2 separate regions of the Homo sapiens genome follow, and region 1 is linked to region 2. Evidence: fine-mapped expression QTL. Tissue or cell type: whole blood. Region 2 holds a variant in brackets; the other region holds the start of a gene. All regions are shown on one strand. Distances are from middle to middle.

What was found. PIP is the estimated chance that this variant, and not a neighbour inherited with it, causes the effect. A credible set is the group of variants that fine-mapping cannot tell apart.
Region 1: UPF1 starts here. The variant in region 2 is the best candidate, but not a certain one, in a credible set for the expression of UPF1 in whole blood (INTERVAL, PIP 0.55).

The regions. Positions count from the first base shown.
Region 1 is chr19:18,830,832-18,833,488 of GRCh38, reverse strand. UPF1 (UPF1 RNA helicase and ATPase) reads right to left here and starts at 1,530. Exons shown (of 24, transcript NM_002911.4): 1 at 1,049-1,530. The coding sequence starts at 1,279. RefSeq lists silencers at 917-996, 1,007-1,096, 1,247-1,346, 1,467-1,726.
Region 2 is chr19:18,858,153-18,860,991 of GRCh38, reverse strand. It overlaps UPF1 (UPF1 RNA helicase and ATPase), which reads right to left. Exons shown (of 24, transcript NM_002911.4): 16 at 554-671; 17 at 10-166. Among named protein-coding and RNA genes, the nearest start is that of UPF1, 28 kb to the right of the region's middle. The variant C/T (reference allele first, on the strand shown) is at 1,444.

The DNA.
Region 1 (2,657 bases), 27 kb after region 2:
ATTTAAAATACCTAAGTAACCTTCTCTAAACATCCACATCATTAAAAATAAGTTTCCAACGTGGCAGACTCGTTTATGTAAAGCCATTATTGCTGTCTTATTGGAAGAACAAAACTCAAACCCAACTTTTCCAAGGCAAGAGTTGTGAAGTTATGTAACAGGTCGGTTTCAGCAACAGGCGATGCAAGAAAAAACAAAATACAACCTGCTTCCTGAATGATCTTAATAGCCAGCCAATATGTGCTCCTCCATGGGAGGCAAAAATTCTTCTCTGCCTCAACCTTCCGCTGGCCAGCGCCCCTATGCATGGGGAAAGTCGAACCTACGCTCCGTGACTGTGAAAGGTGGGGTGCCCAGATGGCTGCGACCACAGATGGGAGGTGGGACAGGCGGCCAGACCCACCAATGGGGAGACCGGGCAGGACCCCCGGACCAGGCCAGAGACAGGATTAGGGCAGGTCACCCTGGATACTCCCGGAAAGGGACTGAGGGAAGTCACTCAAGCTCCGGCCTGAGCAAGACCCGGCCCAGGTCGTAGGAGAACTCGAGGCAGAATACCGAGACCTGCGAAAGAGGGACCAGGGCAGGTCACCCTAGCCCGGATGGAATGGAAGAACTCAGATAAGTCAGGGGGCAGGTTACTCCAGGCCAGACTGATTGTGGGACACAAGGCAGGTCAGCCCGGGCCCAGGAGGGGGAGCAAACCCAGCTGGCGTAAAGGAACAGGGTCAGGTTAGCTCGGTCCCGAACGAAGTGGAGGACTCGAGGCAAGTCTGCCCGGCCCAGGAGTTGGGGGCCGAAGGAACTCAGCCAGGTCGCGGCCGGAGCGGGGGACCCGGGGCAGATCAGGCCAGGCCCGGGCAGATTGCAGGACCTGGGGCAGGTAAGCTCAGGCCGAGCCAGAGTAGGGGACCCGGGGCAGATCGCCCCAGGCCCGGCCGCGATGGGGGACTCCGGCCAAACACAGGCCGGGCCCGAGGCGAGTTCGGGGCAGGTCTCAGGCGCCGAGGCCGGGCCCGGGCTTCCGGCACCGCCATGTGCCGCTCACCTGCGCGTCGAGCTGTCCCGCCGCAGCGCCCGCGCCCGCGCCGCCCGGGCCTCCCGCGCCGCCACCGCCCGGGCCGCCGGGGCCGCCGGGGGGCGTCTGCGTCTGGCTAGGAAGAGTAAAGTCGGTGAACTCGAACTCGGAGCCCTGTGTGTCGGCGCCAAGCAGCTCGGCCTCCTCCGTGTCCAGGAAAGTGAGAGTCTGCGAGCTGGGCCCGTACGCCTCCACGCTCATGGTGCCTCCGGGTAGGGCCCTCGGGCCGGTTCCGCGCTGCACTCGAGCCCGCCGCCGCGCTGAGGCCTAGGCCGCAGGCCTCGGGTCGCTGCCGCTGTCGCCCCCGCGCGCCCGGAAAGGACCAAACCGCGCGCCCCGGCGCCAGCCGGACCGAGAGGTAACAGTGCCGAGCCGCCGCCGCTGCCGCCGAGCCCCTCCGCGCCTCAGCTCCCCTCGAAGCCGCCAGCCGCTCGCAGCCTAGAGCAGGAACTGCCGCCACCGCCGCCGTCGCCGTGCGCGTGCGCGAGCCCGACGCCGGCGGAAGCGCGCGCGCTCTTCGCGGGCGCCTGGTGCCCAGCAGGAAGACGGGACGCGCACCGCGCACGCGCAGGGGGTGGGGCTTTCAACCGCCGCTGCGGCGGCAGCTCGAGGACTTGGTCCCGCCCCAACTGCTAATTGGGGACGCCCGGGCGGCTGGCGGTGTGGACTTGGTGGTCTGCACCTGTGGTCGCTGCGACGGTGTTTCGGTTTAATTGAGCGCTAGCCGAATACCCTACATAGGTGGTCTCGGAACGCCCAACTGGAGAGACTGGGCAGGGACGGTGCGCTCCCACTCCTGGCAAAAGCTGCTTGGAACTCAGTTTCCCCATCTGTAAAATGGAGGGTGCCTCGCACATAGTAGATGCTCCCTGTGCATTGGTTTAAAAAGGGAGTGGGGCTCGGCGCGGTGGTCACACCTGTAATCCCAACACTCAGAGGCTGAGGCGGGAGAACTGCTTGAACTCAGGAGTTCGAGACCAGCCTGGGAGACAGAGTGAGACTCCATCTCTACAAAAAATATAAAAATTAGGCCGAGCGCGGTGGCTCACGCCTGTAATCCCAGCACTTTGGGAGGCCGAGGCGGGTGGATCATGACGTCAGGAGATCGAGACCATCCTGGCTAACATGGTGAAACCCCGTCTCCACTAAAAATACAAAAAATTAGCCAGGCGTGGTGGCACGAGCCTGTAGTCCCAGCTACTCAGGAGGCTGAGGCAGGAGAATCGCTTGAACCCAGGAGGCGGAGGTTGCAGTGAGCCAAGATTGTGCCACTGCACACCAGCCTGGGCAACAGAGTGAGACTCTGTCTCAAAAAAAAAAAAAAAAATTAGCTAAGCGTGGTGGTTCGCACCTGTAGTCCCAGCTACTAGGGAGGCTGAGGTGGGAGGATCGCTTGACCCTGGGAAGTTGAGGCTGCAGTAAGCCGAGATTGCACCACTGCACTCCAGCCTGGGTGACAGAGCGAGACCCTGTCTCAAAAATAAGTAAAAATAAATGAATGGGGATAGTCTTACGTACTGGGCCTGGCACTTGGAAATGATGGTTGCTGCTGTTCCTGATGCCTCTGCCACTGTTATTA
Region 2 (2,839 bases):
GCAGCGCACCTGGTAGAGCTTGGTGTGCAGGGAGCCGCTGAACTGCATGTACTGCACCAGGTAGGAGCGCTGGCCCTCGTAGGGCGTGATGATGCCAATCTGGTCCGGCTTGGCGCCTGCCTTCAGCAACTTCGTGGTGATCTTCTCCACGTTCGCAGCCTCGGTCCTAAGAAACCCAGGCTGTCAGTGCTGGGCTCCACCTGTGGGATCCCGAGCCCTGAGGCTGGAGGCCGTGAGGGGTGCAGACACAACACCCTGCGGGAAGGCAGCTGCCATCACTGGCGTTTGCACAGCTGAGCTTCCCCAGCCTTCACCAGGGGAGTCTCGAGGGGCAGAAACGGCTGCCATGTGGGATTAGCAAGTATCTGCCCAATAAAAAACAAGTACAATGGAAAAGGAGGCAGAAACAACACGGTTTAGAGTCTAAACAGGCTAAACAGGAAATGAAGGCAAAAAAAGTTTCAGTCCCATGTTAAAAATAAGTAGAATGGGTCAACAACCTCTCAAGCTGTCCCCAAGACCTGCAGACGCCGGTGGGCCTGTCCCTGCTCACCTGTTCAGGTAGGAGGTGCCCGAGCTGGCAATCTCCTCTTGGCCCTGGGTCACGTAGAAGAACATCGGTTTATCGGGTTGGGGCCACTGGAAGTCAAATCCCTTCTTCACACGATCCGCTGTGAGGGGAGGGAAAGAAGTAACACTTCAAAAGCCCTAGCCCGCCTCAAATGAGTTCAGACACAGGGCAATGTAGTTGCTACGCTACAGTGCTGCAGGTCCTGGGGCAGGAGACTTCGATCTGTGAGGCCCTGGTGAGGTCACCTGAGCCGGTCCCCTGGCCAGAGATGCCCAGGATTGGGCAAGGCTGAGGAGAGGCCACCGAGAGCACCATGGCCAGCACAGAGCTGGCTCAGCCCCTGAACAGGGAACAGGGTCTCAGCCAGGGCTTTCTTGCAGCCTGGATCTCTGCCAACCCCAGGATACAGGATATTCTCCTGCTTCCTTCCAGAAGCTTGCCTTAAAGGCGCCACAGCCCCTACAACTGACTTGTGTGTGACACTGTTGAGCCAACAGTGTCCCCCTGCCCTGCAGCCTTGTCCATTCCTGCTGAGGGCCTGTTGACCGGTGGCTCTGCCTCTGGGCTCCCTCCTGGGCCGGGGCCCAACACTGCAGCTTGGGGGCCGGGGCGTCCTGCCATGTGAGCAGCCACTTTCTTCGGGCTCTTCATGCTCATCTTGGCTTTTCTGGGCCCTGTTGCGTTTCCTTAAAACTGTAAAACCAGTTTCTCAATTCACAGGTGCCCTCCTCACTCTACTGGGAGCTTCCATCAGTGGAGAAAACCGGTGTTTTTGCACAGCACCAGCCTGACATGGACAGAGGAAGCCAGACACGCCAGGACACATCATATGATCCCACGTCGAGCTGAAAATGAGGCCAAGTGGATCACTG[C/T]TGTTACAGCGAGCACAGGGGCCGCCGGATGAGCTCAGAAGTCCCTCAGCCCAGGGGCTGCTGTGGATGCGCACCCCTGGACAGTGGCCACCTGCAGGGATGAGGCGGCTTCTCACAGCTGGTCAGGTGGTTCTGGGTTCAGGTGCTGGCTATCCAAATATGCTCACTTAGTAACCACTCATTGAGCCAGACACTTGTAATGTGGCCACATGTTTACACTTCAATAGAGAATTTCCTAAAATGTACTTCCTGGGTGTGAACTACGTGCTGTGCATCAATTAGAGAGCAGTGTGCACCAGCGTCTGCCCTCTGGGCCGATGCCCTGGGGACCATGAGGGGTCTGAGCCTGCGCCGAGCCACGCCTTTCCCAGCCAGTGCTCAGACACCCCAGAGCACAAGCTAGGTCTCTGTGGCCTTGTGTTTTCAGCCTTGCCATGCGCTGGGAACAGCGGTGTCCCTGCGATGTCAATAGTGGCATCAACTCCCAAGACCTACCGCTAGGCAAAGAGTGGTGTGGCCCAACCCGGGGGGTGGGCTCTGAGCCTCACTTTCTCCTGTAACTAGGCCTGACAATACCAACCTCACAGGTTTGGAGTTCATGAGGCGCTGTGTCGGCAGCTTTCAGGACCCTTTACACTCTCAAAAGTTAGGGAGTCCAAACAGCTTTTGTTTATTGGATAACTGTATTCTCTAAACTTGGAAATTTAAAAAATATATTAATTCATTTAAAAATAACCCATTACGTGTTAGTTATTTCTCCAAAAATAAGCTAAGTAAGAAGAGTGGTCCTGTCTCCCATTTCTGCAAATCTCCTTACTATCTGGCTGAATCGGAGGCAGCTGGGCCCTGGGGTCCACCTCTGCTCAGTCCACCCTCCTGGGCTCTGGGGACGCTGTGGGGAAGCCAGGCCTCATGGATGCCTGAGGCTGGAAAGGGAGATGGGTTTGTTTTTACAGCCTTTCTGCATGGCTGGGAGTCTCCAGCCCTGAGGCCACATCAAGCTGGACAAAGGTGGGTTTCTGCAGGCCTGTGACAACTCTTTGCCACTCCATCCCCATGTGACTTCGTGACACTCTGCTGGTCATTCAGGAAGGATCTCCCACCGAGTCAAGTAGGTCTTCCAAAGGCTGACACATTTCACTGGCAATGGTGGAAACATTCCATCTGTCACCCCCACAGACCTCACCAGAAAAGTCTCTAGGTGTTGGGAAGACACCAAGCTCATGGCAAGCGACGTTAAGTTTTCCAAAATTCTGGTTTTCACTTGAATTTTACTACTGTAACAGATGTTGCCACTAGTTCTCCATGAAGCGACAGGTTCGATCATTTTTGGAAAAAGTCTGCCCAACACCTTGGGGTGAATACCCAGGGTGTGTCCACAAGGACTTCCTTCAAG